4 linked regions of the Homo sapiens genome follow. The protein of the gene in region 4 interacts with the protein of the main gene of each other region in a biochemical or structural test. Each region holds a gene or a part of one and is shown on either strand. Other genes may lie near its edges. The genes, in order: RGS11, RGS6, GNG2 and GNB5.

Region 1 (7,185 bases), on a different chromosome or scaffold from region 4:
GGACCCTGCTCCAGCACATCGGGGGCCCCGGGCTGCGGAGGGGAGACGAGATGAGGTGGGGATGCAGTTCCGGTGGCTGACCCCCTTTAAGGCTAAGTTCCCCCTCCCAGACCCCCATGTGGAAACTGACACTCAAAGGAACTCGGGAAGAGTCCCGACCTAGCCGTCAGCTGTCTCTTCTCTGCTCACCACCTCCAAATGGCCTGTCCACCGGGCCTCCCCACAGCCCCAGCTGCTCCCGGCCTGTGAACTCGGTCCCCCCACTGCAGCCAAGGCCGCCCCCACTCTGCCTGCTCCCGAGGCAGAGTCTGCAGTCCCCGCAATCTGGCATCCCTGTGACTCTCCCTTGGGCCCAGAGAGAAGCTGGCTTGTCCTGTGGTCTAGGGATGGAGACCTGGGTTCTGATTGGCAGAAACGCAACTAAGTCACGAAGTGAAAACGTCCTGCCCCCACCAGGAGCTCCAAGGCAGGTCCTTCCACAGGCTCAAAATGGTGGTCCTGAGAGCGCCTGTCAGGGAAGCACGCTGACCCCTGCGCTGGCCAGCGACCCCCACCCTCACCGCAGGTGGGCTCACCGGGGGCCTGTTCACCAGCCAGTAGGTCTGCTCCTGGCACGCAATGACCAGCCTGTCCCCCTTGCTGCGCTGCTTGGCTGCCCTGGGAGGAGGAGGCCGAGTTGAGGGCACGCCCTGCACACAGCAGCCCCTCCGCCCCCACCCTCAGGCCTGGACCTGGGCAGGCAGCCACACCCAGGGGTGCCCTCCACGGTCCCAGGGCCACCGGAGCCTGGCCTGGGCTGGGCTTCCCGGGTAGCCTGGGTTGGGCGCCTGCAGGCGGGGCGGGGCAGGGCGGGGCCTCACCTCAGCTGCTCCCTCGCCTGCATCAGCACCAGGTCCCATGCGTGGTTGATCTTCTTGTGTAGCCGGTCATAGCAGTCCTGGGGGCAGCGAGGTTTCCAGTGGGTCACCCCGGCCCCTGCCCCCAGTGAGACTGTGTGGGCAGTTGGGGGGTTGGGGACTGTCTTGGGTTTTGGGGCCTGGGCTGTATGTTCTGGGGTAAACCGTGAAGCCCCGGGGGGCCGTGAGTGAGGCTTGGGTTCCTCCAGCTGTACCCAGCCGGGGCGGGAAGGGTGGGGGGTCCCACCTTCTCATAATCCACCAGGGTCCCCCGTTTTCGGATGTTCTTCTTGGCCAGGTAGATGGCTGGAAGAACAGGGACAGCCTGCAGAGGGGCCAGCTCTGCCCTGCCTCACGGCATCACCCTGAGGCCCCCAGTCCTGGGAACTTGTCTGGGGCCAGCCGTCCCCTTGCTCACCATAGTCCAGCTCTGCAGCCGGCCTCAGGGTACTTGTCCAGAAGTACGGGGTCTGGCGTGGTGCAGGGAGAAGGTGTCCAGGACGCCTGCGTCTGTGCCTCCCCAGTGTCACCCCACCCTCAGACCTCCCTGGGAAGAAGCCTGGGCTGGGCAGGAGGTGTCTGAGGATCTCCCTGCCTGCCCACCACCGAGAGACTCCACTGACCACTGGCCAGTCTCTCCAACTAGAACTGAGGTCAACTCGCTCCTTAGGGCCCTGTTCAGACACTGCCTCCCTCACTGGTCACCCTAAGCCCCCATTCAAGGCGGGGTGGGGCTGGGGGCCTGCACAAGTCTTGGATGTAGTCACAGTCTGTGCCTGGGGAGGGGTACAACCGACGGCAGGTCGGCCCGGGACCCTGATGTGGTTAGGGAGGGCAGGAATGCTGTCCTCAGGCCTTCACAGCCCCTCCCTCAGGACCTGGGCCTAGGGACCCCCAGGAAGATGGCAGAATCCTCTGCACATACGACCCCTTGTGGGGCCCTGCTGTGGTCCCCAGGAAAACTGAGGCTCCATCCCTCAGCCGGGTCCTTCTCACCACATCCGTACTTGCGGTCCAGGACTTTTGGGGAGGGGGCGATGGACCACCAGCCCACGGCGACATGGCGGAGTCCCACTCCAATCCCAGCAAGCTCGGCGCCCCTCCTGTCTCCCCGAGTTGGTAAGCTGGGTGGGTGGGGGTGGGGGTCCCACCGGCTCCCACCTGCACCCCCGAGCCTGACCTGGAACCTGTAGGGCGTCTCGTCTGGCCGGAGCATGAGGCTACGGGGGTCGCGCAGCGGGTAGATGTAGCCATGCTGCACCAGGACGGCGCCCAGGTGCAGGGCCTCTGGGGAGGGGTGGGACGGTGAGCGCGGGGCCGCGGAAGCGGGCGAGGGCGGGACGAGCCGGGCCTCCTCTCCCCTATGTGCTCCCCACCCTTGCACAGCGCGCTCAGCAGGGCTCTGAGAACTGCCAGACTCCAGGAAAACCCAGGCCTAGGCCACCAGCCCAGTGACCCCAGGGCCCAGTGGGAGGCAGGGCGCTCACCCTCCTCCGAGACGCAGAACTTCTGGGCCAACCACTGCACGACGTCGCTGCCTGCACGGGAGAGACAGAGGTGGAGGGAGGCCGAGGCGCGCACGCACCCCCGCCCCGGCGCGCCTCACCTGTCACCGCGTGGGGAATGACGGTGACCAGCAGGCGCTGGCTCCGCATCTTCACGCCCTGGTCGGGGTCCTGCATGCTCACGACCACCCGCTCCATCTGGGCGGAGGGAGTCGTCAGGGGGTGTCTGGCCGCCCCGCAACCCTGATTCCCTGGCACCGGCCGGGATGCCCCGGATCCGGGAGCGCGGAGATTAACGCGCGGCGGCGGCGGATTCCAGGCCGCAGCTGGCGGCGGGGACGCGGGGCGGGCCGGGGAGGGCCGGGGAGGGCCGGGGAGACCCCGGAGACCCCCAAGGGCCCCAGGCCTCGCCGCCCCTCCCGGCCTCGCAGACCTCCGCCCCAGGCCCGCCCCGCCCCGCGCGCCCCCGTGTCCCCATGCTCTCCGGCCCCTCCCGGCCTCGGGCGCCGGGAAATCGGGGGACGGCGGGACACCCACCCGCCTCGCACCTTCCTCAGATGCGGCATCTGCGCCCGGGGGCGGCCGGGGGGCGGCGCGGGGCCGGCGGCCATGGCTGCGGGGCGAGGCCGGCGGGGATGACCGACGTCCCGCCCGGCCCCGCCCCGCGCCGCGCCGCGCCCGGGTTAACCCTCGGGCCGCGAGGCCAGAGTCGCCCAGGCCCCGGTTCGGGTTTTAAGAGACACGGCCACGGCCCAGAGGCAAACGAGCCGGCCCCCCACGAGCGACCCGAGTCACCCCCCCGACCCAGGTCCCGGGACGCTGAGGCCCTCGTGGGTGAAGGCGAAGTGGGACGGGGGAGGGTGTGGGCCGGGGGCCGAGGGGGGATGTGAGGGGATGGAGCTCAGCTGGAGCAGGGGGTGGTCTCTGGGAGAGGCAGAGGGGCTCATCAGCGAGGGGGGGTTACTATGGGGAGGGTCTCAGGGAGGGCAGCGGAGGGGATGGGGGTTCAGAGAGGGAGAGGGGTTCCGTGAGTAGAGGAGACCCGTAGGGAGAGTGAACTGGGGTGGGAAACGTGGTTTAGGGCCCACTGTAACCCCGGTCCTATGTGTGGGGCCCTGAGGACATACAGGGACTAGAGGCCTGGCTGTGGGGCCGGGGCCAGGGCCAGCGGTATGACTGCCCGAGGCCTTGTGTCCTGCGATGCTTGTGGCCAAGACTGCATACATTGCTGTGACGGTGGCTGGTTAGGGGCAGGGTGCATGAGAGATTGGGTCAGCTTTCTACATGGGCCGGATGCCGGCTGTCAGTGGAGCACGTGGCTGCTGCAGAGTGTGACCCAGCTGTCCCCATCTCCTGCTGTGGGTCCCTTATCCGGGGTCCTTCCGGGAAAGTGGCTGATGGCTCATGGCTCACTTCCCTCAGCTCCACGCAGGCCTGGGTGGCCCGCTGGGGAATGAGCAGAAACCCTGCCCAGGGCACCCTGACACTGTTGGAGAGGAGCTTTACTGCAGGGAGGCCCTCAACACACACCCACTTAGTGTCACCGGCGGCCGCCAGGCTTCAGGCCCCACTCCACTCCCAGCTCTCTCCCTCCTCCAATGGCTATGCCTGTCCCCCAGGTGCACCCCGAGCCAGGCCCAGGATCTTCAGGCCCCACCGGGCAGTCTCGGCTCACTGCAACCTCCGCCTCCTGAATTCAAGCAATTCTCATGCCTCAGCCTCCTGAGTAGCTGGGATTACAGGCTCCCACCACCACGCCTGGCTAATTTTTATTTTTGTTTTTGTTTTTGAGACGGAGTCTCACTGTGTCACCCAAGCTGGAGTGCAGTGATGCGGTCTTGGCTCACTGCAGCCTCCGCCTCCTGGGTTCCAGCGATTCTCCTGTCTCAGCCTCCTAGGTAGCTGGGATTACAGGCACGCGCCACCACACCCAGCTAATTTTTGTATTTTTAGTAGAGATAGGGATTCACCACGTTGGCCAGGCTGGTTTCGAACTCCTGACCTCAGGTGATGTGCCTGCCTTGGCCTCCCAAAGTGCTAGGCTTATAGGTGTGAGCCACTGTGCCTGGCCGATTTTGGTATGTTTAGTAGAGATGGGGTTTCACCATGTTGGCCAGGCTGGTCTCAAACTCCTGACTTCAGGTGATCCACCTGCCTTGGCCTCCCAAAGTTCTGGGATGACAGGTGTGAGCCACCACACCCGGTCGGATCATTTTTTAAAAACTAAGTCGAGGTCTCACTATGTTGCCCAAGGTGGTCACAAACTCCTGGGCTCAGTCCATCCTCCTGCCTCAGCTTCCCAGCGTGCTGGGATTAAAGGCATGCCCAGCCAGCATCTTTTTTTTTTTTTTTTTTTTGAGACTGAGTCTTGCTCTGTCAGGCTGGAGTGCAATGGCGCAATCTCGTCTCACTGCAACCTCCTCCTCCCAGATTCAAGCAATTCTCCTGCCTCAGCCTCCTGAGTAGCTGAGATTACAGGCCCCCGCCACCACGCTTGGCTAATTTTTGTATTTTTAGTAGAGACAGCATTTCACCTTGTTGGCCAGGCTGGTCTTGAACTCCTGACCTTAGGCGATCTGCCCACCTCGGCCTCCCGAAGTGCTGGGATTACAGGCCTGAGCCACCGAGCCCAGCCTCAGCACCATTTTTAAAAGGTGCAAATGCATCTATTTCTGCTTGCTTTCTTTATTTTTTAAATTATTTATTTATTTATTTTGAGATGGAGTTTCACTCTTGTTGCCTAGGCTGGAGTGCAATGGTGCAATCTCGGGTCACTGCAACCTCCGCCTCCTGGGTTCAAGCGATTCTCTTGCCTCAGCTCCCAAGTAGGTGGGATCAGAGGCATGCGCCACCATGCCCGGCTAATTTTTTTTTTTGTTTTTTTTTTTGCATTTTTAGTAGAGATGGGGTTTCACCGTGTTGGCCAGGCTGGTATCAAACTTCCTGACCTCAAGTGATCCACCTGCCTTGGCCTCCCAAAGTGCTGGGATTACAGGCATGAGCCACCGCACCTGGCCACTAATTTTTTTTTTAATTTCATTTTTATTTTTGTAGATAAATATACACGTAGCCCCTCGCTTATCCCTGTCTGTAAGGGCCTCAGTTTCTTGCTGTGTTGCCTAGGCTGGCTGATCTTGAACTCCTGGCCTCAAGTGATCCTCCTGCCTCAGCCTCCCAAATGTTGGGATTACAGGCATGAGCCATGGCACCTGGCTATGTATTTATTTTTTGAGAGATGGCAGTCTCATTCTGTCACCCAGGCTGGAGTGCAGTGGTGCAATCATAAACTCATTGCAGCCTCAAACTCCTGAGCTCAAGTGATTCTCCCACCCCAGCGTCCTGAGTAGCTGGGACTACAGATGTGTACCACCGCATCTGGTCTATTTCTGCTTTCTTGGAGGCAGAGTACCTCTCCCCATCCTTACCCACTCAGAGGGTGCTAGGGGCTGGGCAGGGTGGGCGGTTGGCCTTGGGCTGGGAGCCCCTAACATAGTGGTCTGAGTCCATTTCCATTGCCGGAGAGGCCACGTTCAGCATGAGCTGGGGCAGGGGGCTTGTGGGGTCTCTTACTCCAGGGTACCATCTCGCTTGGATCCCAGTGAGCCCTCCCATGCCCCACACCCAGGTGGGGTGAGGTGGCCCAGGTCTGGCTGCCCTGTCTGCAGGGGTGGGCACCCATGGTAGCTGTGAGGCAGAATAGGGAATGAGGGTAGCCAAGGGTTGGGCATAAGAAACGGAACAGCAGGTGCAGCCAGTTCTAGGCAGGATTGGGCAGCTCACAAGCCACATCCTGGCTGCTGTGATAACAAGACAGAAATTTCCACTTCACCTCTGATTGGTCTCGGGCCAATCCTTCATAGGGTGTAGCCAATTGGAGGCCTCTAAAGGGCACAAGGGCTGTGGTCAGGTTTCTTTGCTTAATAAAAATCCTAATTACAGAGGCTCTGGAGCTACTTGCTCCAGCCCACTCCCACTCTGTGAATTGCCTTCCGTTAAATCTGTGCTTTCCTTACTCCGTTCTTCTGACTCAGTTTTGTTTCCTTGTGTTTCGTTGTTCTTTTGTTACTTTGTGCGTTTTGTTCAATTCTTTGTTCAACCCACCAAGAACCTGGACAACTCACCTCCAAGACCTTCTATCTGGTAACAGCTGCAGGAGCTGGAGCTGTGGGCCTGGGGACAAGTGTCCTAACAGCCCCCGCTCCCTGCAGCGAAGGGTCAGCAGAGGTGGCGCTCTAGGGGGGCCTGGGCACAAGTTCATAGGATCCTGCCCTGGAAAGGTTGTGGGCAGTTGGGGGGCAAGGGAGACAGTCCCCACCCAAACCCCAATGCCCCCTAGCACCCAAGGTGGTCTTCTCTCAATTGAGGAGCTCTTTGGCAAGGGCGGGTCTAATTTCTGGTGTCCCTGGAACCGGCCAGGGGTGTCTAAGAAAGGGACTCAGGCTGGTGTTCGGACCCCTTCTCCCTTATCCAGACGCAGGCCTTTGGTCCAGCTGTCCCAGCCAGGGCCTGCTCACCCCTGTCCCCTGCCGGGTCCCATCCCCCCCACCCACCCACAGGTCTCAGTTTAGGTGTCAATATCAGAAGCCCCCTCTGTGCTCCGGTCTCTGTACTCCGCCCCCTTGTCAGTGTCCTCTCCCTGAGGACAGGGGGCTCGGTAACTGGGTTTCCAAGAGCCCTGCAGGGACACCCCCTCTTGGGAACTCACACAGCGCAGCCAGGTCGCTAAGCCTTTGAGGGGCCCTTGTTGCCTCCTGGGTGTGCGTGCGACCCGCGCCCACTGTGGT
Region 2 (7,295 bases), on a different chromosome or scaffold from region 4:
TTCAATGTCACCAGAGGGAAGTGGTAAAGAACAACACCCTTTGGTATCAGGAGGCCTGGATCTTACTTCTGATGCTGCTACTTCACTTTGTGGATTTATGCAGGTTAATTTCTTTCTCTAAAGTTTTACATTTCTTCATTCATAAAATTGGGACCTATCTTATAGAATGGTGGTAGAGTTCTAATGAGCCTTTTTTCTTGGTGGGAGGGATGGGGGATGAGGAGAGGGGAGCAAGGAGATTGCTTGCTTTATCTGCTGCCTTGGTAATTAGGGTAATTAATAGTGAAACTTCCATTTTTTGAAATATGTGTATGTGGTAGAAAATAAATGGCCTCTTCCAGACCTGAGAGAGGTAACGGTGAAGTATTTGGTAGGCTTTGTGGTTTGTAACATCTCAAACAGGTATTCCTAGTTATTATTTAATGTAACTCATTAGGTTTAATGTTCAATTTAATTGCCTACTTATAAGCATTTTTGCTTTCTTTGCAGTTTGAAGTAGTGTGGTCCATGAATGATTATAACTCTTATTACAGGCTTAATGTTTCCAAATTCTGGATGATTATTCTTTTGTCTTGACTACTCCAGAAAGATATTCCTCCATAAGAGAAAACTAATATTGATTCAACCAATGCTTACTGAACACCTATTGGCAGGTATATTTTGGGGCACTGGATGGATGGCTGCAAAGAAAAGTCAAACAGGCTTTTTGGCCTGTAAGGAGCTTACTGTGAAAGCCTGTGAAAAGTCAAACAGGCATTTTGGCCTGTAAGGAGCTTACTGTGATGGTTAATACTGAGTGTCAACTTGATTGCACTGAGGGATACGGAGTATTGATCCTGGGTGTGTCTGTGTGGGTGTTGCCCAAAAGAGATTAAATATGTGAGTCATTGGGCTGGGGAAGGCAGATCCACCCTTAATCTGGTGGGCACAATCTAATCAGCTTCCAGCGAATATAAAGCAGGCAGAAAAACATGAAAAGGAGAGAGGAGCCTAGCCTCCCAGCCTACATCTTTCTCCCATGCTAGATACTTCCTGCCCTCAAACATCTGACTCCAAGTTCTTCAGTTTTGGGACTTGGACTGGCTGTCCTTGCTCCTCAGCTTACAGATAGCCTATTGTGGGACCTTGTGATTGTGTAAGTGAATACTTAATAAACTCCCTAAGACATATATATCTTATTAGTTATATCCCTCTAAGAGAAACCTAATACAGATTTTGGTACCAGGAGTGGTTCTAGATGAACAGAATATTAAGAATGGAGTTCTTTCGTTGGTTTTGGGGTTTCTGGAGTTGGCTGCTTAATATGATTAGACCCAAAAATGCTAAGGACTCTACTTCTAATAGTATAGAAAACACTGATAGTCCTTGGCAGAAACTGTTTAGAGAGTTATGCAAAATAAATGCCTTTGACACTCCTAATTCACCGCTCATGAGAGGCAGGGAGTTTAGCGACTCTGTACATAGCACATTTGACCATATGTGGAGAACCAAGGAACACAGTGAAGCAGGTTGGCTGCTCTTAAGTTCAACGGACAAAGTGATGAAAGAAAATGATGAACTCAGGGATTCTGTCTCCCAGCTTCAGAAGCAGATACTGAGCCTCAAATCTGCTAAGATTACACTAAGTGAGAGTCTTATCTCCTAGAGAAAGAGCCGAAATTGTGGAAAAATAGACACAAGCTCTTAAAGGCGGCCCACTGTGAGTGAGCTGGAAATGCCTGATCTCCCTTGGCTTAATGTACAGGAAGGAATCCAAAGGCTTAGGGAGATTGGGGTGGTGGAGTGGATTAGTCCCTTTAGACCTACTCATCCCAGCTGGGAGGGTCCAGAAGATATACCCTTGACCAATGCCTTGCAAAATAGACTTGGGAGGGCAGCACCTGCATCTTTGAAGAGCCCTGTAATTGCCATTCTCTGTATGTCAGATCTAATGGTGGGAACCACAGTCACTCAACTACAAAATGGGAATAATTGGATCCAGAGGTGGCAGGGACCAGGTGGCAGGGGTCAAGTGGCAGCACTCAACCATCAAAGGCAAGGTGAGCATAACTACCATAATGGACAGCAGAGGCAAAGTGGCAATCAGAATAGTCTGACTCATGTAGAGCTCTGGCATTGGCTAATTAATCATGGTGTTCCTAAAAGTGAAATTGATAGGAAGCCTACTGCATTCCTACTTCAATTACACAAACAGAAAACTTCTAGGTTGAATGGACAAAAGACTAATTTGAATTATAAAAACAGAGAATCACGGCTCCTCATTCAATTTCCAGACTTGAGCCAGTTTACAGACCCAGAACCCTTTGGACAAAGGGGAGGCTGGGTCCCCTTAAGGAAGGACTCCACTACATGACTGAAAATTTATGCAGTAGATCTTTCTCTCATCTTTCCCCAAGGAGACCTCTGGTCTTTTACCAGGGTAACTGCACTCGGGAAAGGAAAATGATCAGACATTTCGGGGACTACTGGACACTGGCTCTGAGCTGACATTGATTCCAGGGGACCCAAAACATCATTGTGGTCCTCCATTTAAGCTAGGGGCTTATGCAAGTCAGATAATTAATGGAGTTTTAGCTCAGGTCCAGCTTATAGTGTGTCCAGTGGGTCCCTGGACTTATCCTGTGGTCATTTCCCCAGGGCCAGAATGCATAATTGGCATAGGCATACTTAGCAGCTGGCAGAACCCCCACATTGGCTGACTAGTAGGGTGACGGCTATTATGGGGGGAAAGCCCAAATGGAAGCCATTAGAGATGCCTCTACCTAGAAAAATAGCAAATCAAAAACAGTATCATGTGCCTGGAGGGACTGAGGAGATTAGTGCCACCAACAGGGACTTGAAAGATGCAGGGATGGTGATTCCCACCACATTCCCATTTGACTCTCCCATTTGGCCTGTGCAGAAGACAGATGCATCTTGGAGAATGATAGTGGATTATCATAAGTTTAACCAAGTGGTGATGCCAATTGCAGCTGCTGTACCAGATGTGGTTTCATTGCTTGAGCAAATTAACACATCTCCTAGTACTTGGTATGCAGCCATTGACTTGGCAAATGCCTTTTTCTCCATTCCTGTCCATAAGGCCCACTAGAAGCAATTTGCCTTCAGCTGGCAAGGCTAGCAATATACCTTTACTGTCCTACCTCAGGGGTATATCAACTCTCTGGCTTTGTGTCATAATCTTATTCAGAGAGACCTTGATCACTTTTTGCTTCCACAAGATATCACTCTGGTCCATTACATTGACGTTATGCTGATTGGATCCAGAGAACAAGAGGTAGCAAACACACTGGACTTACTGGTGAGACATTTGCAAGCCAGAGGATAAGAAATCCAACTAAAATTCAGGGACCTTCTACCCCAATAAAATTTCTAGGGGTCCAGTGGTGTGGGGCCTGTTGAGATATTCCTTCTAAGGTGAAGGATAAGTTGCTGCATTTGGCCCCTCCTACAACCAAGAAAGAGGCACAACACTTAGTGGGCCTATTTGGATTTTGGAGGCAACACATTCCTCATTTGGGTGTGTTACTCCGGCCCATTTATTGAGTGACCCGAAAGGCTGCCAGTTTTGAGTGGGGTCCAGAACAGGAGAAGGTTCTGCAACAGGTCCAGGCTGCTATGCAAGCTGCTCTGCCACTTGGGACATATGATCCAGCAGATCCAATGGTGCTTGAGTTGTCAGTGGCAGATAGGGATGCTGTTTGGAGCCTTTGGCAGGCGCCCATAGGTGAATCACAGTGGAGTACTCTAGGACTTTGCAGCAAGGCCCTGTCATCTTCTGCAGGTAACTACTCTCCTTTTGAGAGACAGCTCTTGGCCTATTACTGGGCTTTGGTGGAAACTGAACGTTTGACTGGGTCATCAAGTCACCATGCAACCTGAACTTTCTATCATGAACTGGGTGCTTTCTGACCCATCTAGCCATAAAGTGGGTTGTGCACAGCAGCATCCCATCATCAAATGGAAGTGGTATATACGTGATCTGACTCAGGCAAGTCCTGAAGGCACAAGTAAGTTACATGAGGAAGTGGCTCAAGTGCCCATGGTCTCCACTCCTGCCACCCTGCCTTCTCTCCCCTAGCCTGCACCCACGGCCTCATGGGGAGTTCCCTATCATCAGTTGACAGAGGAGGAGAAGACTAGGGCCTGTTCACAGATGGTTCTGCACGATATGCAGGCACCACCCAAAAGTGGACAGCTGCAGCACTACAGGCCTTTTCTAGGACATCTCTGAAGGACAGAGGTGAAGGGAAATCTTCCCAGTGGGCAGAACTTCAAGCAGTGCACCTAGCTGTGCACTTTGCATGGAAGGAGAAATGGCCCAATATGCGATTATATATCAATTCATGGGCTGTAGCCAATGGCTTGGCTGGATGGTCAGGGACTTGGAAGAAGCATGATTGAAAAATTGGTGACAAAGAAATTTGGGAAAAAGTTATGTGGATGGACCTTTCTGAGTGGTCAAAAACTGTGAAGCTATCTGTATCCCATGTAAGTGCTCACCAACGGGTGACCTCAGCAGAGGAGGAGTTTAATAATCAGGTGAATAGGATGACCTGTTCTGTGGACACCACTCAGCCTCTTTCCCCAGCCACCCGTCACCACCCAATGGGCCCATGAACAAAGTGGCCATGGTGGCAGGGATGGAGGTTATGCATGGGCTCAGCAACACGGACTTCCACTCACCAAGGCTGACCTGGCTATGATCACTGCTGAGTGCCCAAATTGCCAGCAGCAGAGACCAACACTGACCCCTCCATATGGCACTATCCCTCAGGGTGATCAGCCAGCTACCTGGTGGCAGGTTGATTATACTGGACTTCTTCCATCATGGAAAGGGCAGAGGTTTGTCCTCACTGGAATAGACATTTACTCCGGATATGGGTTTGCCTATCCTGCACACAATGCTTCTGCCAAGACTACCATCTGTGGACTCACGGAATGCCTTATCCACCATCGTGGTATTCCATGCAGCATTGTCTCTGACCAAGGCACTCACTTTATGGCCAAAGAAGTGTGGCAGTGGGTTCATGCTCATGGAATTCACTGGTCTTACCATGCTCCCCATCATCCTGAAGCAGTTATATTGATAGAATGGTGGAATGGCCTTTCGAAGTCACAATTACAATGCCAACTAGGTGACAATACTTTGCAGGGCTGGGGCAGAGTTCTCCAGAGGGCCGTGTATGCTCTGAATCAGCATCCAATATATGGTACTGTTTCTCCTATAGCCAGGATTCACAGGTCCAGGAATCAAGGGGCGGAAGTGGAAGTGGCACCACTCACCATCACCCCTACTGATCCACTAGCAAAATTTTTGCTTCCTGTTCCCAAGACATTACCTTCTGCTGGCCTAGAGATCTTAGTTCCAGAGGGAGGAACACTGCCACCAGGAAACACAACGATTCCATTAAACTGGAAGTTAAGATTGCCACCTGGACAGTTTGGGATACTCCTATCTTTCAGTCAACAGGCTAAGAAGAAAATTACTGTGTTGGCTGGCATGATTGACCTGGACTATCAAGAGGAAATCAGTCTACTACTCCACAGCAGAGGTAAGGAAGACTACATATGGAACACAGGAAATCCATTAGGGCATCTCTCAGTATTACCATGCCCTGTGATTAAGGTCAACAGGAAACTACAACAGCCCAATCCAGGCGGGACTACAAATGGTCCAGATCCTTCAGGAATAAAGGTTTGGGTCACTCCACCAGGGAAAAGAACCTGCTGAGGTGCTTGCTGTAGGCAAAAGGAATACTGAATGGGTAGAAGAAGGTAGTCATCAATACCAGCTACGACCATGTGACCAGCTGCAGAAACAGACTGTAATTGTCAAGAGTATTTCCTCCTTCTTTTGTTAAAAACATGTTTGTGTATATATACACTCATACTAAGAAAATATCTTCATTTCCTTTTCCTTTATCATGTGACATAAGATTTATTGACTTCACAACAGCATGTAAGTATTGTTAACTTTATGTAATAGTATTTGCATTGGGGATTGGTGCATTTCTGGTTGTACAAAGGATAGTTGTATTATGTTATGCACAATTTTGACCTCATTATTGTCTTTATTTGAAGATTATGTATGATCTCAGGAGATATGTATGGGTTCAAGTTGACAAGGGGTGGGCTTTTGATGGTTAATACTGAGTGTCACCTTGATTGCATTGAGAGATACAGAGTATTGATCCTGGGTGTGTCCGTGTGGGTGTTGCCCAAAAGAGATTAAACATTTGTGTCAGTGGGCTGTGGAAGGCAGATCCACCCTTAATCTGGTGGGCACAACCTAATCAGCTTCCAGCGAATATAAAGGAGGCAGAAAAACATGAAAAGGAGAAATGAGCCTAGCCTCCCACCCTACATCTTTCTCCCATGCTGGATGCTTCCTGCCCTCAAACATCTGACTCCAATTTCTTTAGTTTTGAGACTTGGACTGGCTCTCCTTGCTCCTCAGCTTACAGCCAGCCTATTGTGGGACCTTGGGACCATGTAAGTTAATACTTAATAAACTCCCCTTTATAGATATATGGTATATGTACATATATCATATGTATATATATCATGTATAGCATATATATAGCATATATGTATATATGATATATATGTACATATATATATATATATATATATATATCCTATTAGTTCTGTCCCTCTAAGAGAACCCTAGTACACTTAACCCTCTAGTTTTCACTGTCACCAAACCAGCAGTCAGCATCATCCAGGGACTTGTTAGATATGTACCTTCTCGGGCCCCATCTCAGACAGAATCAATCAGAGACTCCCAGGATGACCCCCAGGTGTTTCTGTGTTTGAATAAGCCCTCTTCAAAGATCATTCTCATGTCAAAGCAATAAATACGTCATTAGCTTAATTAGTTAAATCTAAAAGTACCTTTTGCCCTTTAGGGAAACAGAGGCCCAGAGGCCACAGGAGAAGTTGGAGTAACTGCAACCAGAACTCAGGTCTCCCACCCACAATGGCCAATGACCTTTCTACTTCTTTTCTGATGCTTTAATCCCTAAATTCAAAAGGAAGCCCCAAGCATTACCAGCCCAAAGTGCAAACACTTGTTTTCAAAGAACAGAAAAAGAAAGAACCTACTCTTTTTGAAAATAAGGACCACCAGTAAAAACTAATATCTGATCAAAATCATTCTGTAAACAAGCAGTAAATTCCCAAGCCTTTAACACATTTCCAAGTTATATTTCCAAGCTATATTTTATATTTATAAAAATGTGTGGGGGAGGGGGACTGGGTAGAAATAATTGACTAGAATAATATTTGGAAGA
Region 3 (7,295 bases), on a different chromosome or scaffold from region 4:
CTCTCTAGAGAAAACAAGGTTTTCATTTAAGTCTGACAGATACTATACACAGAATGCTTGGCGTCTCTAGCTCATTACTTGGCCCAGGGTAGATTTTTATATAGACCAAATTGATTTAAATGACCAGTCAGGAAAATGCAATTTAATTATATATATATTTTACAATGCAGAAATGCAGGGCTGGTTGTCTAAATTAAATGCCATTCTTATTGCTTTATAGGACCTGATGTATTTCCTTCTGGAATATTTTGTTTAGAAGGTTATTCTTTACTTTGCCTAGCTTTCTCCAGTCTGTGTTTTTCGCCAGGATTCTTCCTCTGGCCTACCTAGATCATTGCTAACAACAAAAACAAGTTGTTTTTTTTTTCTTAATATTTTCTTTTAGGTTCAGGGGTACACGTGCAGGTTTGTTATATAGCCAAAAACAAGGCTTTTGTTCGTGTTTTTCTCAAAGGGAAATGCATGGAAACTTTGTTCAATTCAATGTTGTATGATATTGCTCAGTTATTTAACCTTTTTAGTCTGGATATCTTCACTTATAAAATGGGAATAATAATAGTGGCCAACTCTATTGACTGCCTACCCACTAACCCCCTCTTCCTTGCTAATAGAACCAGACCCTTTTGCTGGGGTCTGATGACTTTGTTCTTCAGCGAGCCTGGGCTGCTCCATGGCCTCGGGAGGAAACTCTTAAATTAGCCAATCACAGTGGTTCTGTCTGCCTACTTACTCATACATATAGCATGTGAGTTGTGAGTGGAAATTCCACTGGACACAGATTTTCTGTGACTTTAAAAAGAGCCGCGGCAGGGCAAGGTAGCTCAGGCCTGTAATCCCAGCACTTTGGGAGGCCGAGGTGGGTGGATCTATTGTGCTCAGGAGTTCAAGACCAGTCTGGGTAACACGGTGAAACCCCATCTTTACTCAAATACAAAAATTAGCTGGGCATGGTGGCACACACTTGTGGTCCCAGCTACTCAGGAGGCTGAGGTGAAAGGATCAGCCTCCCACCTGCAGGCTGAGGCTGCAATGAGTCATGATCATGCCACTGCACCCCAGCCTGGGTGACAGACCGAGGCCCTGTTTCAACAAACCAGAAAGAGCCACATAAGAAATCTGCTGCACCTTGATATGCCTCTACGTATTGAAATATGCCTATAATTCCAAAATTGTAGACGCCATGTCCACACAGTGAGGGGAAATCAACCTGCTGAAGGTGTCACAGTGGGAGGAAGGGAAGAATCCAGGTTGCTAAGGACATTATCCAGCTACCACATAAGTAACTCTGAAGCTACCCTCCTATCAGAGGTCTTGCGATCAATTTCCTATTGCTTACGCCATTTTAGTAGGACATTCCTTTATCAGCAGCCAGAAATATCCTGATAGAAAAATATTGTCCTTATTTCGTAGGGTTATTTTTAAAACTAGCTAAAGTATCCAGCACAAACTGAATGCCTAACAAATGTTCATTCTCAACTTAATTCTTGACATATGTTAGTCTTCACTTATTCAAATTAGTTAGTGCTTTCTTTACTCTGTGTGGTCTGAATGACTCCTCTAGGAGGCTTTCCCTGGTTCCCCAAAACAGGAATAAGGGCAGAAGTCATTGCTTTCTCCTCTTTATTCAAATAAAGATAATATCAAGTACCTAAGGTTATTTTAAACAATAAGAATGGTATTTAATTCAGACAAGTAGTGTAGTGCTGATTGCAGTGTAGAGAAAAAAATGTAATCAAACAGAGTAGTCTTCCTGACTGTGTAAATCAATTTGAACTAAATAAAATCCAACCCAGATCAAGTAATCAACACAGCAGCCAAGTGTTCTGCATTTGGAGTCTACAAAGTTTATCGAAAAGCTGCTTTCTGTAGGGAAAAAGACATAGTTTGTAGATTACAGAACATGTATGTGAAGAAGGACACATTTCCTCTGAAATCTCACCTCATTCTTATTTCAGAAAGGCACCTGCACCTTCTGCTCAAAACCTTCTCCACAAGCCCCCTTCGCCCCAATATCTTTACATGGCTGAATCCTCAGCATCATTTTGGTCTCAACTCAAATGTCACCTCTTCAGAGAGGCCTTCAGGGATTACTCAACAAAGTAATCTCCCAATTACCCCTGCCAGCATAGGCACAGTCCCACCATTCACCCTGTTTCTACTTCAATCCATCAAAGCACTCACTACTACTTGACATTTTCTTTTATTGTAAGTCATTTCTGTCAATGGTTCCAATCCTGGTTGATTCTGATTTAATTACTCTGAGGTGAGGTTGGGACATGATATTTTTTTCAAACTACCCTCTCAGTGATTTCTAATGTGCAGTTAGACCTAAAAACCACTGGTTTATGTGTTTACTGAGTCTCTCTCAATACTCGAATGTAAGTTTCAAGAAAACAACCGACCAGTTTTGTTCATCCTAGTCTCCCTGGCATCTTGACGAGCACATGGCACATTGCAGACATTAGGACTTTGAACACATCGATTAATTCTATTGTAATTATATTTCTGTATTTGTCTGTTTTCCCCATGAGTTTGTGAGCTCTTAGAGGACAAGTACTATGTCTAGCCCACTCTGCATCAAAAAATGAGTCACTCAAGAATGTTCATTAAATAAATGAATGATAAACAAACTGCATTGTGTGGTATAAGGAAGACAAAGATGAAACCAGATGTGACCGCTGTCCTCAAAGAGCTTGGAGTGTGGTCAAAAAAAAAAATTATGCAGATTGCTGTTATACACACTAGAATGAGCTAGATGCTGTGATGAAAGAACAAAAGATTTCAGAGGAGCATTGTTTTTTTATTGGGGAAAAAAGGGAAGAAACCAAGGGAGGCTTCATGAAAGAGGCAGCATTTGAACTGAGCTTTACAGGACAGATGGAATTTGGTTATTCAGAGAAGTAAGACTGTGGGGACAAAGTGTGGAAGGGGAAGCAGGAACTAACTTATCCTAGGCGGAGAGAAAAGAACTCAAAAAACAAGTCAGCCCAGCTGGAGGTTAGGAGGGCCTCAACTAAGACACCGGCTATAAACATGGAAAAGAGTCAGTATCAAGATATTTTCCCAATCACAATTGCAAGGAGCCATGCAACTTCCTGCAACTAGAGGTGCTTGGTGAGGAAGACAGTGAAGTTGAATTGTCATAACTGAGGTAATGATAAATGGGGTGTCATTAACAATTATGAAATCAGGTGAGGAGCTGGTTTTGAGGAGTGGGAAAGGTGATGGTGAGCACAGTTTTGGACATGTGAGTTTCATTTTCTGTGGGTTGGATGTTCTGGTGAATTTGCAGGCAGCTTGCTGTACAAGCTGAGAGAGGAGGTGAATGATTAGGATGCTTCATCAGATTTGGGACTGACCCACACAGCAACAGTGACTAAAATCACAGGACAGAATTTGATTAGGGAGAGGGAGAAATTAAATGGCCAAAGACTCGTATCTTGAGAACACTCATATTTGGGGAGCAGGAACTGAAGTTAGTGAAGTTGGAGCCCGCAGAGAGGTAGGAGGAGATTTGTTTCATCTACTTCTTAATTACTTTGTGTGCGTATGGAAAAACTAAGCATGTTTACAGGGAAAGAGGAAAGGACCAAGAAAGAGAAGAAACTAAATATGTAGGAAAGACAGAATTATTGTCACAACATAATCCCTTAGAAAGTAAAAGGGAATGGGATAGAGAGTCCAAGTAGAGGGTTTATTCTTGGCTTAAAGGAAAGATGATGTTAATTTGACTTAGGAGGAAGAGGAGAATGAATGATGTGAATGACGCAGATCTTTCTGTCCCCCTACATACCCATATGTTGGAACCTGATCCCCAGTGCAATGGTATTAGGACATGAGGCCACCTTTGGAGGTGATTGGGTCATGAGTATGGAGTCCCATGAATGGGATTAGTGCCCTTATAAGAGAGACTGGAGAGAGCCAGCTGGCCCCTTCTGTCATGTGGGGACACACAGAAAGTGCTGTCCACGGCCTTTGCCAGACATCAAATCTGCCAGTACCTTGATCTTGGACTTTCCAGCCCATAGAAGTGTAAAAAAAAAAAAAGATTTCTGTTGTTTCTGGGTTACCTCATCTTTGGTAATTTGTGACAGCAATTCAAATGATCTAAAATAAAGGAAGACGTGGGGAAATTCTAAGGTGGTAAGAATGAGGTTGAGGAAGTCTGTAATATGTGCCTTCTCAGAAAGACAGAAAGTGAGGTCACTTCTAACGCACAAAGGCAGTAGGGACTTGGTTGAATGGTTTCCATTGAAAATGCACAGGACAGAGTGAAAAGTGAAATAAAAAAGGAAGAAGGAAAGAATTTTGAAAGAACAGCAATGGCCCTGCGGAGATGCAGTGAATCTAGAGTAGAACCAGTCAGCCCAGTTTTCAGCCCCTCTCCTCTACCTCTGAGTGCTGGGTTCCTGGGAAGAGGATCAGGGGAATGCCTGACCCCACACCCGGGCTGGCCAGGGAGCAAGGGAAGGCCAGGGAACAGGGAAGAAGTGGTCAAGAGACTGGTTTTTCAAAGCTTTTTCATTAACAGCTTGACTGTTTACACATATTTGCCAAGAGATAAAGGGGCTGATCCTGTCTTATCTCCAGCCTCTGTATACAGTAGTACCACTTCTAAGAAACATGTTATCACTAAAGTTTGAGAATTGAGCTCCCTTTTTTTTTTTTCAGTGTTTAATGAAGTCCTCTAGAGATTGTCTGAACACTGACTCCCACTAAATACAACTTGTTGTCTTTAACATAAGAATTTTCAAGAACCATATATTTACAGATATCTCTAATACTCTTACCTGAAAATTTAAATCTCTATTCCACAGTGGCATCTTTCACACCTGAACAAGTTTGTACACAGAAACTCCATATTTACATAGGGTACTAAATGTAAACCGTCTACTCTTTTTTTTTAAACAAAATATTTTAGTCTTACAAACAATTTTAAATGTGACAACATATAAAGACTTTGCCCTAATATGAGGTAAGTGAAATGGAGTTGTAACTGGGAGGTGAGGAATTAATGAACTGTTTAACTCTAAATTCCAGGCCTATTTTATTATCCCTTATGAAGAGGTCAATATAGGCTAGGTCACCCCCCAGATCATTTTTAGCTCTACCATTCTAGCATGTCCTAGGCCAGGGACTAAGTCCTTTATAAATTTTTTATTATATTTTTAATTGAAAAATAAAAATTGTGTATATTTATGGGGTACAATGTGATGTTTTGATACATGTATACATTGTGATGATCAAATCAGGCTAATTAACATAGTCATCATCTTGGAGGTGAGGGTGGGAGGGTGGAGACTAAATCTCGACACAGCTCTGCAACTCTCCTCTCCCACCCAGATCTAGTAAAGACAGGCACCTGGCTTCTCCCAGTAATTGTAGAATGAATAGATGTGCACATTAAATAAAATTAGGGGTCATTATTTGCAAACTTCCCTCCACCCCTGGCCCCCAGCACATGGACAAAGTGCATTACAGAAAGTTAACATTAATTATTCAGGAGCTCTTCAAACCATTCAAGGTCAACGTCTGACCCCACATCGTAAAGCTCAGATACTGTTGCTATTCAATAGGGTCCCTGCTAATTGTTCTGCCCAGCTCTCCTCAGCCTCACCATACCCTGCCTCACCAGTTTAAGGATTAGGAGTAAAATCTGTCGTGGAAAAGGAAACAGAGGATTCATTATTTTTAAAAGTGAAATTTTGGTTAGGATCACACTTCATTAGTAGAAACTTGTTGTCTCAGAAACTTGTTGTATTGTTTAACTACTGTAGCCCCTCCCCACAAGTTACTGCTCCCCCTTATAAAGGATTTCAGAGCAATTTAGTACTTTAGTTTCTCCCCTCCCTTTCTGGCCATGATACCTACTGAGCATTTTTCTCTAATGAGGGGACCAGAAAAGCACTGAAGAAACAGCTCTCCAGTGCCTCCGTAGTGGTAGCCTGGTCTGAGATTTGACCAGCAGAATCACTGGTGTGACTGTCTACAATAAAGGTTTGAATTTCACTATCAGGTTCTGGACATCACCAACTAGCAGAAGCTATGCACATTTTCTTACTCTGTCCTTTTGATTTCAAATGTTACTTTTGAGAGGAGTATTTTATTTACGCAGGGATAATACTGTTGTATAAAGGAGGTTAAATACGAAGATTATGATTATTATCTAATGACACATTATGTTAAAAGATCCTGCCATTTGCAAATGTCTCTTCAAAAATTTGATTAAAAATTTGCAAATATTCTCAACACAGTATTTCTGGGGAAAAACATCAGCAAGGAATATGAATAGACATTTTTCTAAGAAGATATACAAATGGCCAATGAGCACAAGAAAAGATGCTCAACATCACTAGTGATTAGGAAAATGCTCATCAAAACCATAAAGAGATACCACTTCATACCTCTTAAAATGGCTATTATCAAAAACATAAATAAAAAACAAAATAAATATTGATGAGAATGTGGAGAAGTTGGAATCCTTGTTCATTGCTGGTGGGAATGTAAAATAGTGCAGCTGCTATGGAAAACAGTATGGCAATTCTTCAAAAATTAAATATATAATTACTGTGTTCCATCATTTTCACTTCTGGGTTCCCAAAAGAAGTAAAAGCAGGGACTCTAACAGATATTTGTACACCCGTGTTCATAGCAGTATTATTTACAATAGCCAAAACATGGCCCGAGTGTCCATCAAAAGAGAATAAACAAAGTATAGTCTATACATTCAATGGAATATTATTCAGCTTAAACAGGAAGGAAATTCTAGCACATGCTACAACATTGATGAATCTTAAAGACATTATGCTAAGTGTATTAAGCCAGTCACAAAAGGACAAATATTGTATGACTTCACATATATGGGATACTTGGTCACATTCATAGAGACAGAAGTAAAATGGGGGTTTCCAGGAGCTGAGAGAAGGAGGGAAAGAGGAGGTATTGATTAATGGGTATAGAATTTCAGTTTTGCAAGATAAAGACAGTTCTATGGATGGACGGTGGTGATGACAGCACATCAATGTACTCGCTACCACAGAACTGCATACTTAAAAAAATAGTTAAAATGGGAAATGTTATGTTATGTATATTTTATCACTATAAAAAAAGTCTCCCTAAACCTGTGAGGCAGTGGTAAAGACCAAGAATATGCTAACTTTTCCTTATGCCACCAAGGAAGAAAAAAATAACATTTCAGTACCTTCTATGTAGAAATCACTCACTTATCCGCACACAAAAGCAAAAACAAAGCAAAACAACAACTTTGATTATGTATTACTAGCCCTTCTTTACAA
Region 4 (7,295 bases):
ACTTGTTAACTTGTAGGTAGATAAAATCTCAGATATTTCATAATTCTTGACATTTCTCTGTCTCCACCATGTCTTCCTTAGTTCCAGTCACCATCATTTCTTTCTTGAACTCACACAACCACCTCTAACTGGTCATCATATTTCCATTCTTGTTCCCTACAATGTATTCTCCATACAGCCAGTGATCTTTTTTGTTTGTTTGGGTTTTTTTTTTTTTTTTTGAGACACGGTCTTGCTCTGTTGCCTAGGCTGGAGTGCAATGGCACCATCTCGGCTCACTGTAGCCTCAATCTCCTGGGTTCAATCGATCCTCCCACTTCAGCCTCCTCCACACATCACCATGCCCTGCTAATTTTTTTTTTTTTTTTGGTAGAGACAGGGTTGAGCCATGTTGCCTAGCCTTGTCTCGAACTCCTGGGCTCAAGCAATCTGCCCGCCTCAGCTTCCCAACAGAGCGATCTTTTAAAGGCAAAACATGATCAGGTTAGCCACCCCTACCCCTCCCAACTCAAAACTCTCCAGTGACCACCTGGCCTTTTGTTAGGTCCCTTAACCTCTCATCTCTGTGCTCTTCCCCCAGCTCTTTGCTTGCCTGGCTCTTTCATGATCCTGGCCTCAATGTAAAGATCACCTTCTCAGTGAGGCTGTCTTTGACCTCTAAGAAATGACCCATCCCATCTCCCTGTTTTACTTTTATCATAGTAGTTATCAGTATCTGAAATTGTATATTTGTGTTTGGTCTAGTTTGTCTCCTGTAAGAGAATAGAGACCTTGTCCATCTTGTTCACTGATATATTCCCAGTTCCTAGAATAATATCTAGCATATAAATACTTAATAAATATTTATTGAATGAATGGATGAAAAATGCTGATTCAACTTAGGGAGGATATTAATTGCTCCTAATGTAATTAAATTAAAATTCTCCATGAGTTCTGGAGCACTGTTCAGTTCCACCACAATCAGCCTTTCTTCCCGGGGAGGCCTCTCTCAGCCAAGTAAACTGAGTCTGGAGGCGGTTCCTGGGCTAAGGATTACCCAAGCCAGGCAATGCCGGCAGAACAGAGAGGTGGCATGAACATTCTACTCACTGACCGGACACTGTTGATGTCAGATTCATGTGTTTCAAAGGCCTGCACGCACTGGCCGGAGCGCATGTCCCACACCATGGCTTTCTTGTCACATCCCTACAAATGAAAATTAGCCAGAGTTATGGCCACTTTAAGGAATGTCTATAGACAAGGCACGAGTCCCAGTTATATAACACAGACCATTTATTTCCCATTAGCAAATGGTTGACAACACACTTTTCTGAGACTAGCTTTACCTGAGGGCACTTTCCTTAGTCAGAAAGCCCTTAGACGCCTAGAACTAGGTCTTGGGATGGGAGGCAGGAGGGAAGGCACTCGGCTTCCTCTTTTAGCTTGTTTTCTTCTTTTGCACATTTCTGAATGGAGGCAAACCCTCCTTACCCTCCCCCGGGCATCTCCCTTCCTTTCATTTTTCCTTCTTTTCTCTCTTCTCTTTATACTTGCCTCCCTAAGCCCAGAGGGCAAGGCAGGCAGGCAGTGGTGTGTGGTGGGACCTCTCTAGTTGTGACATTAATAAATGGGTTGGCAGTGCCCAAATGGAGCAGCCGAGAGTCCCAGCTTTGTTTTGGTGTATGGGGCAGCCCTCAGCAAAGCTGGAGAGCCAGGTGCCCCGGGCCATCTGCACCCTCAGCAGCATGCTGGGCTGGGAATCTGCAAACCAGGGGCCCATAAGGGTGCTGCCATCGACGCGCAGGGTGGCTTAGGCAAGTCACCTCCCTGGGCGTCTGCCTCAACACCTATAAAGTCAATGCTCTCTTCAGGTTGCTAACATGACCCAGAAGGTCACAGACATGAGGGTTTTTCCATTATCCTATCAAGGCTCTGGGAGTAGTTTGATAAGTTCCTGCAGAGTGGTCATGTTATCAAGCTTAAGTAGTAGAATGTGGACTCTCAATAGTCAAATAGCTTATATGATCAAACAGCTAAAAAGTAACAGCTTAAAACTGGTGTCTAAGTTGTTGGTTTCAACTTGGAGCAGAGGGAGGTGTGTAATGAAGCACCATCACACATCTGAGGAAGGCCCGCTGTGGGAGTTCAGCATCCCGAGTGTCTTTACTGAAAATGTGGGCAAAGAAACCAGAAAGGCCTTCACATCTTTAGAGGACACTCAATTGGATGCAGTTTAGTGCTCTGAAAGAGACAATATGATCTACAGTAATAGCAGTAATTTTTTAAAAACACAGTAGAGTTGAGGAGAGATAAATACAGTGATACCAAGGCACAGGGTTGAAACATCTACACATGGCCAAATACCCAGGAAGAAAATCAGGGTCCCTGCTAACTACAGCTCATACAGCCCTGGCCTGGCTCCCAGGATCGATATGTGGGCAGCCTGGAGCAAAGGTCCCTTATGTGTCCCAGCTGCAGAAGTCACCTGACAGTGTGTGCGTCACTGTCCTGTCTCACCACTGCCTCCTGACGGAGGTGAGACAGGACCCATGGTAAGGTCAGCTGGCCCAGCTCTCTGTCCTTATTCTCAGGCTGGCCCCAGAAAGACTTGCCCCTCCCATTTGCATACACACTGCAAACTCTTCCATCTACTGCTTGTACCATCCTGGGGAGGGGAAGTGCAAATACCACTATGCACTATGGCCAACTTATAGCGGATGCGACTTACAGTCAGGTAGCAAAGCCCTGACCCAGGCACCCTGACTCCTAGTCTAGTGCTTCTCTGAGTCTCTGTGGCCCTGTCTGCCAATTCTGAGCTTTCAAAGCCTCTGTTTCTTGCACCCTGTGATGGGAGGGAGGATGGTGGCTGGCAGGGGTAGGGTAGGAGAGTGCCCCACAGGCCTCAAAGTCCTGGTGGCATCACAGCGTTGCCTCAGCTCAGTAGCCATCTGACCTGCCATGCCCTTGTGCGCATCTCTGATGCTCTCAGATGCTAACTCTCTGCTATTTACTTGAGGAATGACATTTTAAAATGTGGCAGATATGCACCTTGAGTTGCAGCACTCATACAGGAGAACATTCCAGATTACTCTATAGACTGCTAACATCAGTGGCAGAACAGAAGGAGGCCCTCACAGCTTAGCCCTGTAGCTGCCCACCAAGCCCCCGAGAGGGGCCTGGAGCCAGTGCGGTCACTGCAGGAGCTGGGGGTTTAGTGGGGAGTTGAGAACAATTCCTGCAGCCCCTTCTAGGGAAGTGCCTAGGCTAATCCCATGAATGGACAAGAACTGCCACCATAAGCCTCCTTAGTGGACACAGGAGCCCTAGGGAATTTCCACTGGGTCTTTACCCCAGACACGAAGGTGTTTCCAGTTTCTGAGGGGGCCAGGTCCAAGCAGAGGACGTCAGCCCCATGTCCGTGGAAGCTCTGCAGCAGCTGCCCGCTCTCCACGTCCCACAGGGCACATGTGCCATCGCCGCTCGCTGTCAGGATCTGCCCGCAGAAAAGGACAGGAAGTGGGTGGTTGTGGTTATTGCTTATGCCGGGGGCAGTCAATCAGAGGCTTAACGTTCCGCAGGGAAAAGCAGAACACACACACACACACACACACACACACACACACACACACACCCTACCTGCTGTATCTGGGTTCATGCACAGAAATCTCTCTCCTATACAAAGAAGGAAAGAGTGCATTTCCTACACCCTCACAGTCCTTGAGTTGTGTTTATATGGTTGTGGTTATTGCTTATGCCGGGGGCAGTCAATCAGAGGCTTAACGTTTTGCAGGGAAAAGCAGAACACACACACACACACACACACACACACACACACAGGGAAAAGCAGAAAACACACACACACACACACACACACACACACACACACACACACACACACACACACACACACCCTACCTGCTGTATCTGGGTTCATGCACAGAAATCTCTCTTCTATACAAAGAAGGAAAGAGTGCATTTCCTACCCTCACAGTCCTTGAGTTGTGTTTATATGCCTGCCTCCCAGCAGAGCTGAAATCCTGGCGGCCTCATGGTGGTACCTACAGGGCTCTACACATGCCTGGCTCGTAGGAAGTGTTCCGTGAGTCTCTACTGAGTGTTTAAAACCTTCGATGCCTCCCACTGCTGTGCAGGCCAAAAACTTAAAGTGCTTCTTGGATACTGATGCATACACATCACTGGGCTGCTTGCTAATAGAGTCTGGGGTGGGGCCTGAGCGTCTACACTTCTCACAGGCTCCCAGGGAATGCTGAGGCTGGTCACGGGGCACACTGGGAGCAGCAGGGGTCTAGGCAGCATCTTGTTGGACATTCTCTGTTGCTGCTTTTCCCGAGCACAGTGCTGCCCAGAGGCTTCCCAGGACCACTGACGGGTGCCAGAGGATATTCACGCATACACAGGTTCAAGAAACATCTGCTGTGTGCTGACAGTGTCTGCCAGGCACTCTGCTAATGCATGAGGGTTTGCAGAAAGATTGTGTCTCAGTTTCTGTTCTCCCAGAACTCAGTTTAATAGGATTGCCAGTAAGAATGAAACCAACATAATTCCCCATCCCTGTGTTAAACAATTCTGGGACCAGGCCAACTTTCCTGTTACTATGTTAAACCATATTGAGACCAAGTAAAAATAACTTAACTGCTTGCTGCAGAAAATACCTGCTCCTGGGAGAAAAGACTGTGAATCGATTAGACAACTTACCAAGATTAACAGCTTGCTCATCCAGACTCAAAGACTGTTCGCTTGCTGGGCTCACCAATCCAAAGCTAAAACGGCCTTGCAAGACCCACCTTAAAATCACCAAGCCTGGACCCTGAAATCCTCTAAGTACCCTTCCCTAATTCCTCCATTTTCAGAACCTACTAAGATTCTGCCAAGTGGAGGTTCTCCCTTACTGTGGCAGGTCAGATAACCTTAGCTTTGCTTGGTTGCAAGTATTTCTGATGTTCGCTTGGGGAGTTGACATCACCAGTAGACAAGGATCAATGACAACAGCATGAGAAGTGCTGGGATCCAGGTGTGCACACAGGAGGGTCCCAAACCCAGTGTGGTGATATCTGAGTTGGTCTTCAAGGAAGAGTGAGAGCTGGCCAGGTGAAAGAAGGGAAGGGGAGAGACAAACTCCAGGGGGGCCTATGTCTGCACTAAATGAAAGGTGAGCCCGTTCACAGGTGGGGACTCAGTCTGAAGCCAAGAGAGCACTCTGGAAGCTTCTGGGCAGGAGAATGAGAAAAGCAAACGTATGTTTTAGGAAACTCTGGCAGAGGCCCAAAGAGCCTCTGGATAGCTTACAAGTACAAAGGTCAGCCATAGAGTAAAGGCACACAGGGGTGCCCAGGGAAAGACATGGGGACAGGGCTGGAATTTTACTTTTTGTCACTGCCAGTGTGTATGAGGCCTGGGCTCTGGCTGAGCATACCTTCCTGGGATTGGGAGAAAGGCAGTGAGGACTCAGGGTTCGGGGCCCTCATAGGCCCAGCTGGCGGCATCACAGAGCCCTGGAGCCAGCTGGGTACTGACAGCAATGGAGGGGACCTGCAAGGGAGAAGCTCTCCCTGCCTTCTGGCTGCTCCACAGGGCCTGGGTGAGGTGATAAGACCGTGGAGGAAGTGGCTCTTGCAGCATAAGTGTCCACAAGAGAGCCCTTTGCGGATGATTACTGATGGCTGAGGAAAGAAAAGAGGAATCAGGCCTTATGCACCGCTAGCATGCAATGCAACCACTGACCACACCACACCTTCAATTTCCAGCTGCTGATGGGATCTCTCCTCCTCACCCTTTGCCCCCTTTCCCTTTTTCTTCCCCTCTCTCTTATATGTTAGGCCTTGAACATAAAGAATCTCATTTTTTTCCCAGCACTTTGGGAGGCTGAGGTGGGCGGATCACCCAAGGTCAGGAGTTCAAGACCAGCCTGGCCAACATGGTAAAACTCCAACTCTACTAAAAATACAAAAATTAGCCAGTTGTAGTGGCTCACGCCTGTTGTCCCAGCTACTTGGAAGGCTGAGGCACTAGAATCGCTTGAACCTGGGAGGCGGAGGTTGCAGTGAGCTGAGATCACGCCACTGTACTCCAGCCTGGGCAACAGAGTGAGACTTGGTCTCAAAAAAAAAAAAAAAAAAACTCATTTTTTTTTCTTTTTTTGCAGGGAAGGAACAAATTACAAGGAGGGGAATCTGCTCCCGCCCTGGTGTTGCACCCACTGGCTGTCCACAGGACCCCCTCCAGCCTTGACTTCCCTCAGGAGGCCTGCATACATCCAACAAGATGACTTAAGCTAGCAAAGTAGCTTATGGACACACAAAACCTGAACCGAGGCTGAAATTTGGGTACTCATATTTTGTTGGATGCTCAAATTCCCTCAATCTCTCCTGGCCCACACCCACTAGTGGCTGTTCCAACTCACTGCTTTCCTAATAACACTTGCAGTAACTTACAGTTTATTTTGAGACACCAGGTCCAAACAATTTTCTTTAAGCAACTACCCCAGTCTTGCTCTTTAATTTAGGAAATTTTCATACCATACTGTTTGATCAAAGAAATGAATAGTTTTTAAAAGTTAAAAGTAGATTTCTAATACTTTTCAATTTTGTGTTTCTGATCTTCATTATAATATAAGTAAAAATAAAGTTTAAAGACCAAACATTTATTCATATAAATGCATTAAACAGAACCCCTAACTCATTGTCACTCATTTGTTCTGGAATGCAGAGAATTTGTAAGTTTAATACCATAGTCTCATACCAGCCGCTTGAGTTTCTCTTTTATCAACCTAGATCCCAGGGATTGAAGAAAGCTGGAGGTTCATGAGTTCAGTAGTACCCAAACTAGGCCATGTATCAGCATCATCCATGAAGCTTTGTGTTAATAATAATAAAATTGGCTGGGTGCAGTGGCTCACGCCTATAATCCCAGCACTTTGGGAGGCAAAGGCAAGTGGATTGCTTGAGCTCTGGAGTTCAAGATCAGCCAGGGCAACACACCAAGACCCCATCACTACAAAAAATACAAAAATTAGCCAGGCATGGTGGCGTGTGCTTGCAGACCCACTACAGGCCTACCAGCTACTTGGGAGGCTGAGGCAGGAGAATCACTTGAGCCTGGGTGGTGGAGGCTTCAGTGAGCCCAGACTGTGCCACTGTACTCCAGCCTGGGTACTAGAGTGAGACCCTGTCTCAAAAAACAAACAAACAAACAAACAAATAATAAGAGTTAACGCTTACTGATATTTACCAGGGACTACACTATGTACATGAATCATCTAATTTAAGCCTCAGAAAACCTTATGCAGGACAGATTTA

What was found.
Region 1: the proteins of GNB5 (region 4) and RGS11 form a complex in vitro, tested with the Homo sapiens proteins (one study listed by BioGRID).
Region 2: the proteins of GNB5 (region 4) and RGS6 form a complex in vitro, tested with the Homo sapiens proteins (one study listed by BioGRID).
Region 3: the proteins of GNB5 (region 4) and GNG2 form a complex in vitro, tested with the Homo sapiens proteins (one study listed by BioGRID).

What each region holds. Positions count from the first base shown.
Region 1 is NC_000016.10:272,900-280,084, forward strand, and holds the start of RGS11 (regulator of G-protein signaling 11), read right to left. Parts: upstream 3,046-7,185; 5' UTR 3,013-3,045; coding exon 2,950-3,012; exon of another isoform or gene 2,939-2,949; intron 2,600-2,938; coding exon 2,503-2,599; intron 2,441-2,502; exon of another isoform or gene 2,435-2,440; coding exon 2,384-2,434; intron 2,184-2,383; coding exon 2,077-2,183; coding exon of another isoform or gene 2,058-2,076; intron 2,000-2,057; coding exon of another isoform or gene 1,904-1,999; intron 1,367-1,903; coding exon 1,315-1,366; intron 1,203-1,314; coding exon 1,144-1,202; intron 938-1,143; coding exon 861-937; intron 658-860; coding exon 576-657; intron 33-575; coding exon 1-32. UniProt on the Homo sapiens protein: Inhibits signal transduction by increasing the GTPase activity of G protein alpha subunits thereby driving them into their inactive GDP-bound form.
Region 2 is NC_000014.9:71,935,361-71,942,655, reverse strand, and holds part of RGS6 (regulator of G-protein signaling 6), read right to left. Parts: intron 1-7,295. UniProt on the Homo sapiens protein: Regulates G protein-coupled receptor signaling cascades. Inhibits signal transduction by increasing the GTPase activity of G protein alpha subunits, thereby driving them into their inactive GDP-bound form. The RGS6/GNB5 dimer enhances GNAO1 GTPase activity.
Region 3 is NC_000014.9:51,863,323-51,870,617, reverse strand, and holds part of GNG2 (guanine nucleotide-binding protein G(I)/G(S)/G(O) subunit gamma-2 precursor), read right to left. Parts: intron 1-7,295. UniProt on the Homo sapiens protein: Guanine nucleotide-binding proteins (G proteins) are involved as a modulator or transducer in various transmembrane signaling systems.
Region 4 is NC_000015.10:52,132,285-52,139,579, forward strand, and holds part of GNB5 (guanine nucleotide-binding protein subunit beta-5), read right to left. Parts: intron 3,473-7,295; coding exon 3,329-3,472; intron 1,186-3,328; coding exon 1,094-1,185; intron 1-1,093. UniProt on the Homo sapiens protein: Enhances GTPase-activating protein (GAP) activity of regulator of G protein signaling (RGS) proteins, such as RGS7 and RGS9, hence involved in the termination of the signaling initiated by the G protein coupled receptors (GPCRs) by accelerating the GTP hydrolysis on the G-alpha subunits, thereby promoting their inactivation.